Homo sapiens: one gene and its partners. The protein of the gene in region 2 interacts with the protein of the main gene of each other region in a biochemical or structural test. Each region holds a gene or a part of one and is shown on either strand. Other genes may lie near its edges.

Region 1 (3,500 bases), on a different chromosome or scaffold from region 2:
TGTATGTACACACACATGCACACACACACGTTTTTACTGAGGCCAGGACTTCCTTATAGAAGACAATTCTGAACTAACAGGGATTAAATTTGTCTCAAACAATCGTAGTAGCATTATTGCCTGACTGATTTAGGGCAGCCCTGTGGAAGCATGTAAACGAAACCATCTTAATAATTTCATAGATGAATTTCTGCCTATGTGGTATAGCCTCTTGGGTCTCCTTCCCAGTGCCAGATTCCCCCATCTCAACCTCATTTTGACATCCTATATTAAGAAAAAACAAAGCAGGTACTAATCAGCAAGAACAGAATCCTATTCTCTTGACAGAATTCCCATGATCTATAACCTGCTGGATAAATAGTTCAAATCCTATATCTCTGTTCCTATTCCTAGACTTTCTGGCACCTATTACCCTTCAAGTCCATGTGTCTTCCACTAGGCTGCCATGCTCTCCGCAGGAGAGGGCAGCTGCCTAGATTTGTATGTTACAGAGGTGGTCGTGTGCCTTCTCTACCTCTCTCCTGTGTTCCCATGTAACCTACCTCTCTCCTGTGTTCCCATGTAACCTAACCACACAGGCCATAATCAGCTCCACCCTAAGAAACAGAACATTGTTAGACCTGTCCCTTGAAGTTGTACTTAGAGAGAATGGCCTGAAAACACAAGGGAGATTAAAGGTCTTTTCCTTTTCAGGGAAAGTATAGTTCTATAAGTAGATATCTGGTTAAAAGACACAGAAGAAGGAAAAAAGACACTCATCTGTAGGAACTCAGTTTAGCCAACATGACTTCCACTTGGAAGCATTTTTCCTCTCCTCTTCAAGCCCAACTCTAGGGAATACCCTGTGCAAAAATATCAGTGTAGGCACATCTCTTTGCGGAATTGAGTTGCTTTGCTTTCGCAGTTTCCTCTCTCCAGTACCCCCAAGCTCCTGTCTGGCTTCTTATACTGTTCAACCCAGGATCCTATGTTCTAGAACGGCCTTCTCACCATCTTTCCTCAGCTCTTAATTCGAAAGTCCCACTTCTAGTTCATGCTCAGAGAAAAAGCAAGTAGACCTAATCTTTATTAGAACGTGCATTTCCAGACAATAGTACTCTATTTGGCTTACTTTGCTCCCCTACATGGTGGACTTTCAGATAATATAAGGAAGAGAAAAAAGTCTAGATGTTGGAGAGGGAGTCAGTTTTAGGTAGGGAAGATCCAGTCAGTCCTACAGGTTATTATCTGCTCTTCAGCATTCCTTATAGCTCTCTGGCAACAAGTGACAGGTCGGACCATATGGAGTTACTATTTTTTTTACTTTTGGCTTAGAAAATGGCTATTTTATATGATTCAGCCTAACACTTGGGTTTTCTTTGCTAACCTTAGGGGTTACAGTTGAACCAGCCAACTCAGGAGGAAATCCAGAACCTGGATTCTTATAGTGGAAAACAAATTCACGGTTAAGATTTGAATGTGAATTTTAAAATAAATCATAGTATTTTAAAAAACAATTTTTCCTTATTAGGTATGTAACTTTGGAAAAGTTACTTAACCAGTTTATAACAGTACCTATTTTATAGGGCTGTTGTGAGGATTTAATGAGATAATTTATGGAAAGCACATGGCACTGTGCCAAACTCATAATAAGTACTCATTAAGTGTTGGTCACAGTTCTCACCAGCCTTGTTCTCTGTCCTCAGGAGATGATGACCACAATTGGAAAATTGCCCATGTGGTGCTCAAAGAGGAACAGAAGTTTCGCTACCTTTTCCAGGGCACAAAAGGCGACCCTCAGAACTCAACTGGGGGAATTTACCTAGATGACATCACTCTGACAGAAACCCCCTGCCCCACAGGGGTCTGGACAGTCCGGAATTTCTCCCAAGTCCTTGAGAACACCAGCAAAGGGGACAAGCTTCAGAGCCCTCGATTCTACAATTCGGAGGGATATGGTTTTGGGGTAACTTTATACCCAAATAGCAGAGAAAGCTCTGGTTACTTGAGACTTGCTTTTCATGTGTGCAGTGGGGAGAACGATGCTATCCTGGAGTGGCCGGTAGAAAACAGACAGGTGATAATTACCATCCTTGACCAGGAGCCTGATGTCCGGAACAGGATGTCCTCAAGCATGGTGTTCACTACCTCGAAGTCGCACACATCTCCAGGTGGGTGGTGTCAGCGCAAATAAGAACTGCCCCTTGAACCAGAGAGGCCCACAGATGTGATTCTGTGGTGCAAGAAAGAGTAACGTTCTCCTCACATTGTCTGTTTGGGAATACCAATAACATAGTCTTGTTGGAGTTTCAAGTCAAGATTTTCAATGCCATCACATCCTCCTTCCCTTTCCTAAATTCACTCATCAAACATCTATTGAGGGCTTACCATGTGCCAAAGTCGGTGCTAGGTACTTAGAATACAAGTGAATCAGGTGATCCCTGCCTCACTGAGCTCGTTGTGATTGAGGAAATAGATACTGCTAATCATTTATCAAATACTTGGAACTTGCTGGGCTCTGTGCAGAGCTAATGTACTTACTCCTAAAATAGTACTCAATGTTACTATGTTCATGAAGTAAACTTACATCAGTAAAGAAATGGGCAAACTATTTTTTTTTTTTTTTTGAGATGGAGTCTCCCTCTGTCGCCCAGGCTGCAATGTAATGGCGCATTCTCGGCTCACTGCAACCTCCACCTCCCAGGTTCAAACAATTCTTCTGTCTCAGACTCCCGAGTAGAGATGGGGTTTCACCGTGTTGCCCAGGCTGGTCTTGAACTCCTGAGCTCAGGCAATCCACCCGCTTTGGCCTCCCAAAGTGCTAGGATTACAGGCGTGAGCCACCACGCCTGGCACTAATTTTTTTTTTTTTCAAAAGAGAAGACTTAAGCCTTAGAAGAAAGAAGCCGTAGCTGTCCCTCTCTTTTCATTAAGAAAGTCGCTCAGTAGCAGACAACTGATCACTCAGAGCTGTGATTCTCTGCCTCTCCCATCTTTCAATTCTGAATTGCAATTCTCCTGGAAATAGTAAATAGCCTAATTTTTTTCCAACACTTTTTTTATTTTTATATTTATTTATTTATTTATTTATTTATTTATTTATTTATTTATTTATTTCTGATTCACAAAGCCCTGTATCCTCATTAAAGACAAACTGGAAAGTGAAGTCTAAAGAGGTAATGTGATTTTATGTTACCTACAACTTTGCAGCGATAAATGACACTGTCATCTGGGACAGGCCGTCCAGGGTGGGAACCTATCATACGGACTGTAATTGTTTTAGAAGCATCGACTTGGGCTGGAGTGGTTTCATTTCCCACCAAATGCTGAAAAGGAGGAGTTTCCTGAAAAATGATGACCTCATCATATTTGTGGACTTTGAAGGTACTTTTGTTGGTCTTCCTGAGTAAATAATCCTATGCTCTTGGCACTCTACTGATTTTATCCTGATTTTTAAAGCACACACGGAGGGTGGGGATGAGGTTAAAACAATGTGTTGTAGGAGAATCACATTTTATTCA
Region 2 (3,500 bases):
ACCCAAATATCCTGCATATAAAGTCCGCATCGCAAACTAATTATCTTACTATCATATCTGACGCCTGAATAGACATTTTTTGGCTAACTTTTCCAGGGTATTCTTTTTTTTTTTTTTTTTTTTTTTTTTGAGATGGAGTCTGGCTCTGTCACCCAGGCTGGAGTGCAGTGGTGCTATCTCGGCTCACTGCAAGCTCCGCTTCCCAGGTTCAGCCATTCTCCTGCCTCAGCCACCCGAGTAGCTGGGACTACAGGCACCCATCACCACGCCTGGCTAATTTTGTTTTTGTATTTTTAGTAGAGATGGGGTTTCACCGTGTTAGCCAGGATGGTCTCGATCTCCTGACCTTGTGATCTGCCTGCCTCGGCCTCCCAAAGTGCTGGGATTACAGGCGTGAGCCACCGCGCCTGGCCTTTCCAGGGTATTCTTTTAACGTGGTCTTATTTGCCTTTTTGAATTTAAGAAAATCTATCAGCATCATATACCACCACTGGAATATAAATTTGAAAGAGAGTCCTGCAGATTATATACATGAATCTACTTAGGCCTAATAACCAAGCAGTCCTCAGTGGCAGATCAATGAAAAGTGAAACTAAAGGCAAGTGAAGGGTAGGAGAGATTGGCCAGTGTTTGTGCAGCCTCTGTGGGAAGTGTCTAGTTCAATTCCTCTCATGTCTGCTTCTATTTTCCTGTTCCCCCCAATTCTAAAAAGCCAGTGTCTCCTTCTAATGTCTGTATGTTCTGTGGGAATTTTAAAGTCCAGGTGATACTCTATACAGACTGATATGGTTTGGCTCTGTGTCTGCATCCAAATCTCATCTGGAATTGTAATCCCCATGTATTGAGGAGAGGAGGTGATTGGATCATGGGGTGGTTCCCCCAGGCTGTTCTCATGATAGTGAGTTCTCACAAGATCTGATAGTTTTGTAAGTATCTGGAAGTTCCTCCTGTGTGCTTCTCTCTCCTGCTGCCATGTAAGACATGCCTGCTTTTCCTTCCACCATGATTGTACATTTTCTGAGGCCTCCCCAGCCATGCGGAACTGTGAGTCAATTAAACCTCTTTATAGCAGTATGAAAACAGACTAATACAGATAGTTTAAATATTTCATCTCTTGGGCAAAAATAATACTAGAGGCTTATAGTCTTTCCCACCAAGGTAGACAACTCTTATTCCCCATTCCAGGCATTCTTCCAATGTGGGTGGTTGGGACTGCTCTGCCTCAAGACCTATCCTGTGATAGTGGTCAACAAGGTCAATGGCAGGTGGTGCACTGGCAAGTCCTGCAAGATTGCCATATCTATAGAGAGCTGAGTGTAATGACAGAATCACAATCAGCTAGTATGCTTTGAAAAATATCTTTCTCCAGGACTGAATTGACAGGTATCTGGCAAACTTGCAGCGAAAGGAAAACATGAGTCTAGTCATGCCATTAGTACAGTCTTGAAATTGCATTTTCCTTCACTCATGCCTTTTGGGATGTATTAGGCTCTACCACTCCTACACAGAGAATGCTTTTTGAGGTTATCAGGAACAGAGTTTCGCATTCTCATGACACAGTATCAAAGACGCTGTGGGAGTTTGCTAAGGACTTCATGTGTCCTAGGTAGTAAGAAGGAAAATGACAGCATGGAAGCAGCAATACCAGTAATAGTAGCCTCTGTGACACCAGGGCGGGGCCGAGGGACCACTTCTCTGGGAGGAGACCCAGGCTTCTCATACTTGATGATGTAGCCGGTAATCCTGGCACGTGGCGGCTGCCATGATACCAGCAAGGAATTGGGTGTGGTGGCCAGGAAACGCAGGTTGGATGGTGCATCAATGGCTGAAAGAAAACAAAATTAAGTCTCTAAGAAGGCAAATAACCAAGAAAATTACTCCCACACTTTTCTCCCGAGCCGTTCTAAACACACTTAAAAGAATCTGAGAATACTGTAAACCGGAAACAAGATTCTCTGGAATCTATAATACAAAAATATACGCCTCACATTTGTTTTTTGAGTTCATGAAACTGATTGCATACAAGTCAATGGCATTTCCTCAGTAGAAGGTATAGTTACCAGTGGAGGCGTCGATGACCACAGGGGAGCTCCGAGCATTGTCATTCAAGGTGTACAGGTAGATCTTGTAGTCAGTGCCTGGTTGTAAACCTGGGATTTGAGAAGAGATGATTTTTAACAGTTCTTGCTTTTTACTAGGAGAATTCTCAAGCTAGCCTGCAATTTTTCTGGGTTCTTCTATCATCCCATATTTATATAGACTACCAAAGTGGTCCACATTTGAACAGTAAAGTAGAGCATGCTATGGATGTTAACTGTTAACAAGAAACATATCTCGAAAGTGAATCACTGATACAGACAAGGACACTGGTAAAGTAAATTCTGGAATGCAAAAATGCTATGTTGGAAGAGGCCCTCTTGCAGAATGGGGGTCAGCCACTTATTGAGGTTTTCTCTTTACCGTAATCAGATGGTCAATAGTTGAGCCTTGGAATCACAATTTTAAAAAGCTAAAAAAGACCTCAGATATTGAATATTCTTCGGTTACAATTTTGGCCTTTATTAAGTGGTATTGTTTACTTTTATATTAACTATGCTTTTTAATGCTAAGATCTATACATCACTGTTTTTTATTTCTTTTAGTTTTAAACCTTATGTTACAATTTTTTAAATAAGAAAGGGCACAATGATGGAAGATCAAACTTGTTGATTGACACTTACGCAATTTCCATGACAAATATTACACAAAATCAGGCATTCAAAGGACAAAACTATTTCTGATCATAGCATGAAAATAACGTTCTAAAACTGGGTTATGATGATAACACTGAAAATAAATTTTATCAGTGTCAGTCGTAGAACAGTTAATAAGCCCGTTTACATTGTGGGTATTTGTTAACAAATGTGGTTAGTGCAATGAGTTCCCTGACCTGTGATGGTGTAGCTTCTGACATCTGGCTTGATGGTTCTCTGGATTGGAGTCTGGCCATTGGCTGGAACGGCATCAACTTGGAAGCCAGTGATCGTCTCAGTCTTGGTTCTCCAGCTAATGGTGATGGTGGTCTCAGTAGCATCTGTCACACGAGCCCTTCTTGGTGGGCTGACATCTGCACAGGAGCATAGCTAGAGATTAGTGCCTGCTTGGCTCATCCATGTAAAGTTTTGGTATTTTAAAACGTTTCCTTGGTATATATCAAATTCATCCATTTCAAGAAATATATAACTAGTAATGTGTAGATTATCTCCTTTGGCATTCAGAGAGAAAGGTCAACTGTAATTAGAAAATAGGAAAATATCTACCTCTCAGACATTTTATTTTGAAGAGCTGAAAAGCTTTATAGATACTACCAGTGGTTCCCAGGGCTGGCTTTATAGTATCTACAAATACTTCAATAAATATTAAAATTATTAATGTATTATAATGTAAAAATATGTGTGGTAGGAGTTACAATAACATGGCCAGCTAACAATTTTGTGTGTGTGTGTGTGTATGTGTGTGTG
Region 3 (3,500 bases), on a different chromosome or scaffold from region 2:
AGCTGGGTGTAAGAAGATCCGTTACAACGGTAGCTGATATTTACTGAGCACTTACTCTGTGCCAGGCATTGTTCTGAGTTTTTAAGATATATTTAATTTAATCATTCCTCATAACAAGTTTCTTTTAAAGTCAGTGCTATTACTATCTTCATTTTAAAGATGGAGAAACAGGAAACAGACATTCAGAAAGGTTAAGTAATTTTCCAAAGATCATGTATAAAAGTTAAGTGATAAGTCAGGATTCAAACCCAGGGAGTCTGGCTGTAACATCCACAGGAGCGCAGACACACCAACAAGTCACACTGCCTTCCTCTAGGAGAGAGAAGGGAGAGTGGTGGGGATTCTGGTAAACTAGAAAACATGAGTTCCAACTAAAAGGAGCAGCTCCTCCTCAGCTCTAGCTAACTGCTGCTCTGCAGGAATATAAGAATCTCTCTCTTTCTGTATTTCTCTCTTTCTTTCTTTTGAGATAGTCTCTCCCTCTGTCATCCAGGCTGGAGAGCAGTGGCACGATCATGGCTCACTATGACCTTGACCTCCCAGGCTCAAACGATCCTCCCACCTCAGCATCCTGAGTAGCTGGGACTACAGGCATATGCCACAATGCCTGGCTAATTAAAAAAGACAATTTTGTAGAGGCAGAGCCTCACTATGTTGCCCAGGCTGGTCTTGAACTTCTGGACTCAAGCTGTCCTCCTGCCTCGGCCTCCCAAGTGCTGGCATTATAGGCATGAGCCACTGGGCCTGGCCTGGATTTTCTTTTTAAAGAGACTAATATGAAATTTTAGGGGGAGAATCTCCTGATTATTCAATATTGCCAATAAAGTCAATTTTTTATTTCTTATTCATTTATTTATTTATTTATTTATTTTGAGATGGAGTTTTGCTCTGTTACCCAGGCTGGAGTGTAATGGTGTGATCTCGGTTCACTGCAACCTCTACCTCCCAGGTTCAAGTGATTCTGTGCTTCAGCCTCCCAAGTAGCTGGGATTACAGGTGCTCGCCACCATGCTAGGCTAATTTTTGTAGTTTTAGTAGAGATGGGGTTTCACCATGTTGGCCAGGCTGGTCTCAAACTCCTGACCTCAGGTGCTCTGCCCACCTTGGCCTCCCAAAGTGCTGGGATTACAGGTGTGAGCCACCACACTCGGCTTTTTATTTTTAATTTTTTAAAAAACTTTTATTTTTGCTTTAGGGGTACATGTGTGGGTTTGTTCCGTAGATAAACTGTGAGTCATGGGGGTCTGGTGTACCTATTATTTCATCACCCAGGTAATAAGCATAGTGACTCATAGGTAGTTTTTCGATCCCCACCTCCTCCCCGTCTCCACCCTCAAGTAGGTCCCAGTGTCTGGTGTTCTCTTCTTTGTGTTTAATTTTTAAAATAAACACTTGGGTGAACCCCCACACAAAGGTGTGGCTGGGTTCTGTCTAGGGGTTACCAGGTCTAGACTTCTGATTTGAGCCACTCAGTGCAGATTATTGCTGTCCTAATGATTGTCTCCTTAAAAAAATTAATTTTTGAAAACTGTCCTATTTCCTTCAAGGACCTTAGTTACTTTGTCAAGAACACCTTTTTCATAGCCAGTTCAAGTGACTCCTGCTTCATTCACAACCGCCCTGCTCTGTGCTTCTTCCTCACAGAGTGTCCCAAGGGCCCTGACATCCTGGTGGTCCTGCTCTCAGTGATGGGGGCCATTCTGCTCATTGGCCTTGCCGCCCTGCTCATCTGGAAACTCCTCATCACCATCCACGACCGAAAAGAATTCGCTAAATTTGAGGAAGAACGCGCCAGAGCAAAATGGGACACAGTAAGAGACGGGGCTGGGCGTTTTCTAAAGTCATTGGTCTGAGACTCTTAAGTGGAAGCAGCAGATGCTTTGGGTGGTCATGTTCAGCCAGTACCATCGTCTTTCCATTATCCTCTGTTCTGGAAACTGGGAGAGATGGTCTCACTATCCCCTTGTCCTTCAGCTTCCTTCAGCCTCTTAGAAATAGTGGCAGGATGTCATTCCATCTCATTCTCTTCTTTCTCCTCAAATAAATGGTTACTTCCAGGCTGGGCCTGGTGGCGCGTGCCTGTAATCCCAGCACTTTGAGAGGCCAAGGTGGGCAGATCACTTGAGCTCAAGAGTTCGAGACCAGCCTGGGCAACATGGTGAAACCCCGTCTCTATTAATAATATAAAAATTAGCCGGGTGTGGTGGTGCATGCCTGTAATCCCAGCTATTCGGGAGGCTGAAGCAGGAGGATTGCTTGAACCCAGTAGGTAGAGGTTGTAGTGAGCTGAGATTGCACCCTGCTCTGGGTGACAGAGCAGGACTCGGTCTCAAAAATAATAATAATAATAATAATAATAATAAAATAAAATAAAAGGTTACTTCCAAATCAGACTCTACTCTTTTATCCTGATTTATTCCAATTAAATAAGCATTTACTGAGAACTTTCTATATACTTAATCTTACTCTATTCTCTTTTGGCTCTTCTTTCACATTTCAACTTTTTTCCTCGACCCTCCAAATGGCTATTTGACTCCCCAAATGTCCAGAGTTAGGCTGCAAGTTTGTTCCCATTTGATGTTGACCCCAGAGCTTTATACTCAAGGGTCCCAAGAAACTGAGATGTTTCTGTTAGAACAGTGTGGAACATCCTGTACCTATGAGGCCCACAGGAATGTGTTTCTTTCTCTTTTTTTTTGGAGACAGAGTCTTGCTCTGTCACCCAGGCTTGAGTGTAGCGATCTTGGCTCACTGCAACCTTGGCCTCTCAGGTTCAAGTGATTCTCCTGCCTCAGCCTCCCAAGTAACTGGATTACAGGCGCCAGCCACTGTGCCCAGCTATTTTTTGTATTTTTAGTAGCGACGGGGTTTCACCATGTTGGCCAGGCTGGTCTCGAACTCCTGACCTCGTGATCACCCGCCTCGGCCTCCCAAAGTGCTAGGATTCCAGGCGTGAGCCACTGCGCCTGGCTAAGAATGTGTTTCTTGAAGCTACCATTATAGGATTTGTTACTTTCTGTTGGAAAATAGTTTGGGAAACCTAGTGAGGGTCTTACTTTTTCCTGATAACATGACAGTTTGTGGATAGTGCTTTCTCTTTCTCTCCCCTCCTCTCCCATTCCCTCCCCTCCCCTCCCCTCTCCTCCCCTCCCCTTCCTTTTACGCTTCCTCCCCTCCCCTTCCCTTCCTCCCCTCCTCTCCTTTTCTTTCCCTTCCCTTCCCTCCTTCCTTCTTTTTTTGAGACAGGGTCTCGCTCTGTCACCCATGCTGGAGTGCAGTGGTGCCATCATGGCTCAATGCAGCCTCCATCTCCTGGGCTCAAGTGATCCTCCCACCTCACCCTCCCAAGTAGCCAGGACTACAGGCACACATCACCGAGCCAGCTAATTTTTGTATTTTTTTCCCTTGTAGAGACAGGGTCTCACTCTGTTACCCAGGCTGGTCTAGAACTCCTGGGCTCAAGTGATCTTCCTACCTTGGCCCCTAAAAGTGCTGGGATT
Region 4 (3,044 bases), on a different chromosome or scaffold from region 2:
AGTTGTGTTCCCGTGACAGGGCCTATATGTGCATTATGTGTGTGTGTGTGTGTGTGTGTGTGTGTGTGTGTGTGTGTGATTTCTTGCCTCTCTTGTTGAATGCCTGAAGCTCCCCTCTCTGGCCTGGACTGGGCCATTGTCTGCCTGCAGCTCCCCGGGGAAGGGGCTGTGGAGGCAGGACCCCCATGTTGTGGTTTTGTGCCTGGAGAATTGAGGGCAGGCGTGGCTCGCAGACAGGCAAAGTCCAGTCCGAAGAGGGGAACCCAGCTGAGGTCTGGTTCGCTTTTGAGCTGCCTGTGCCTGATAGCCACGGCCTGCTGGCCTGTGCTCCTCCTGGATCATCTTGTGTAGCCTCGGTGATGGCCCAGGATCCCTGGCCCTGGTTTCCGAGGTCAGGCCTCTCCGAGCCCAAGGAGAGCCTCGGACCTGGGGGAGCCATGAGGGGACCCTGGGTATGGGTCTGCTGGCCCTGCTGCCTGGGGCCGGCGGGGAGGTGGGGCCCTCATCAGGCCAGCAGCTGGGATTATCATCTGGACGCTCAAGTCCACAGCAACCTTGGGCTAGGATACAGCCACGAACCCCCCATTCCTAGGCCATGGCTTTAAATTTTTTTTTAATATTAATAGAGACAGGGTCTTGGTGTATTGCCCAGGCTGGAGTGCAGTGGTGTGATACCAGCTCACTGCAGCCTCAAACTCCTGGGCTCAAGCGATCCTCCTACCTCAGCCTCCCAAGTAGGCTGGGACTACAGGTGCCACCATGGCTTGCTAATTTTTAAATTGTTTTTAGAGGCAGGGTCTTACTATGTTGCCCAGGCTGGTCTTGAACCCCTGGAGTTAAGTGATCCTCCCGCCTTGGCCTTCCAAAGTGCTGGGATTACAGGCGTGAGCCACCATGCTCAGCCTGGCTTTTAAAATGTATTTAAAAACAACGTGATCATTTGAAAACATTTCCCAGCTGCACATCCACACACAAGCAAACACTTTCCCTGGCCACCTGCACCCCAGAACTCCCAAACTTCCACACCTTAGCAGTGTGCATCCTTCAGCCCCCCCAGGCACACGTGAACCTTTGGGTTTATTTTAAACAAAAATAGGATGAGTCTGCTAAATACCATGCTCCAACACCAGGCGCGGCGGCTCTCACTTGAAGTTCCAGCACTTTGGGAGGCTGAGGCAGGAGGATCACTTGAGTCCAGGAGTTCAACATCAACCTCGGCAACATAGCGAGATCTCATCTCTTCCACACAAAAAAAATATTTAAAATTAGCTGGGCATGGTGGCCTGTGCTTACAGGTGGGAGGCTGAGGTGGAAGGATCACTTGAGCCCAAGAGCTTGAGGCTGCAGAGGCTATGATTGGCCTAGGTGACAGGGTGAGACCCTACTCAGAAAAAACTAAAACACACACACACAAAACTGCACTGCAGCTTGTAGGTTTTTCACCTGGTACTGCTACACTCCCCACCACAAGGTAGTGTTTCTGGGAGGAGGTCAGGGGTCAGGCTGCTCTCTCCTCCCTCTCAGCCTGTCCCCGGCTCCCAGCACGTCGTGATGTCCGAAGCTCCATGCAGGCATTCATGGCCGGGCTCTGTTCTCTCTGGCAGGTGGCCAAGGTGGAATACGTCAGGAAGAAGCCAAAATTAAAAGAAGTCCAGGTGAGGTTAGAGGAGCATTTGGAGTGCGCCTGCGCGACCACAAGCCTGAATCCGGATTATCGGGAAGAGGACACGGGTGAGTGGCTGCCTTCGTCGGCATCGGTGTTGGAGAACAGGTCTTCAGAGCCTTGCTTTTGGGGTGTTAGGTGGCCCCCTTGAGCGCAACGCTTACTGCTGTGAGCATCTGGGCTGCTGTTGAAGGATTCGTTGCCCTGCTCCCGGGCCAGATGCCTGCGGGGGAGACGGATCCCACACCTGCAGGTGTCCGGTGGGGAGGGTGGCCCAAGCTGCGGCACTGGCAGGAGAGGAGATTCAGGTCTCACTGAGAGGGGCTGGGAGTGCATAAGACACCCAATTCATTAGTGGGCTGCGGGGCTGAGCTGAGAAGAATCTGCAGAAGGGCCTCCTGCCAGGGTGGGCGGGAGGAGCAGGTTCGAGGACTGCAGTTGCCCTGGCTGGCTGGGGTCTCTCCTTCACCCCGCCACGCGGACTCCACCCAGGAGCAGAATGGCTTCTGTGCCCTGCTATGGCTGGGCCCTGGGAGCATGAGGGGACTCAGAAGTTTCTCGGTGCCAGGGTGCTGGCCTTCTCTTCTGGAAAGATAAACAAATGCCGTAGGTATTTGTTGCTTCAGTTCTTCACCCCGACGGCCGTCCCTCGGCCCACTCACCGCCCTGCCCTTTTGTTAACAGGAAGGCCTAGGGAGTCAGGTAAAAAACGGAAAAGAAAAAGGTTAAAACCCACCTAAAGCAGCCAACCAGGTAGGACTGTCTGCCGGACACACTGAGTCCTGCAGGGCGGGGAGGTGCAACTGACTGATCACACCAGCAAATCACGCTTCCTGTCTCGCCGGGTGCGGCGGGGATGTGGCCCTGATTGGCCTTGATGGTGTCTGCTGGGCTTGGGTCTCCTTGCTCCCCGTCCGCTCCTGCCTCGCAGAACGCCCTGGCCCGTGGCTCACTCCCGCTTGGGAGCCTGCCTCCAGCTTTGTCCTTCTCTTTGTCGTTGATTGGGGATGCAGGAGCATTGCACATGAATGGAACAGGTTGGGCGACCTGAGCAGCGGTGGGGCAGCTCTGAGCGCCTGGCCACTCTGGGATCACCCACCCCATTTGACAGATGAAAAAACTGAGGCTTAACTGAGATTACAGATAAGGACTGTTGGAGGCTGAATATATCTGGAAATCCTTTATAAACGTGCAGGGCTGTTGGCTACTGTGTTGGAAATTGCATTTGGCTGCTAGTAACACCAGACAGCACAGGGATTGAGATAAGATCGAGCTTCATGACTTTCATCTAAGGGTGGGATTGCAGAGCAGGGAGGGTAGTCTTGAGGTATCATCAGTGTCCGCCTTCTGTCTGGCTAGTGGCATCCATCTGCAGTTGCCT

The links. Proteins that work in one complex are often made in the same cells at the same time.
Region 1: of the proteins of FN1 (region 2) and MEP1A, one has a biochemical effect on the other in vitro, tested with the Homo sapiens proteins (one study listed by BioGRID).
Region 3: the proteins of FN1 (region 2) and ITGB3 form a complex in vitro, tested with the Homo sapiens proteins (one study listed by BioGRID).
Region 4: the proteins of FN1 (region 2) and PDGFA form a complex in vitro, tested with the Homo sapiens proteins (one study listed by IntAct).

What each region holds. Positions count from the first base shown.
Region 1 is NC_000006.12:46,831,389-46,834,888, forward strand, and holds part of MEP1A (meprin A subunit alpha precursor), read left to right. Parts: intron 1-1,685; coding exon 1,686-2,150; intron 2,151-3,189; coding exon 3,190-3,363; intron 3,364-3,500.
Region 2 is NC_000002.12:215,373,569-215,377,068, forward strand, and holds part of FN1 (fibronectin isoform 1 precursor), read right to left. Parts: intron 3,107-3,500; coding exon 2,930-3,106; intron 2,151-2,929; coding exon 2,061-2,150; intron 1,826-2,060; coding exon 1,646-1,825; intron 1-1,645. UniProt on the Homo sapiens protein: Fibronectins bind cell surfaces and various compounds including collagen, fibrin, heparin, DNA, and actin. Fibronectins are involved in cell adhesion, cell motility, opsonization, wound healing, and maintenance of cell shape.
Region 3 is NC_000017.11:47,305,827-47,309,326, forward strand, and holds part of ITGB3 (integrin beta-3 precursor), read left to right. Parts: intron 1-1,644; coding exon 1,645-1,811; intron 1,812-3,500. UniProt on the Homo sapiens protein: Integrin alpha-V/beta-3 (ITGAV:ITGB3) is a receptor for cytotactin, fibronectin, laminin, matrix metalloproteinase-2, osteopontin, osteomodulin, prothrombin, thrombospondin, vitronectin and von Willebrand factor.
Region 4 is NC_000007.14:499,803-502,846, reverse strand, and holds part of PDGFA (platelet-derived growth factor subunit A isoform 2 preproprotein), read left to right. Parts: intron 1-1,604; coding exon 1,605-1,731; intron 1,732-2,347; coding exon of another isoform or gene 2,348-2,403; exon of another isoform or gene 2,404-2,416; intron 2,417-3,044.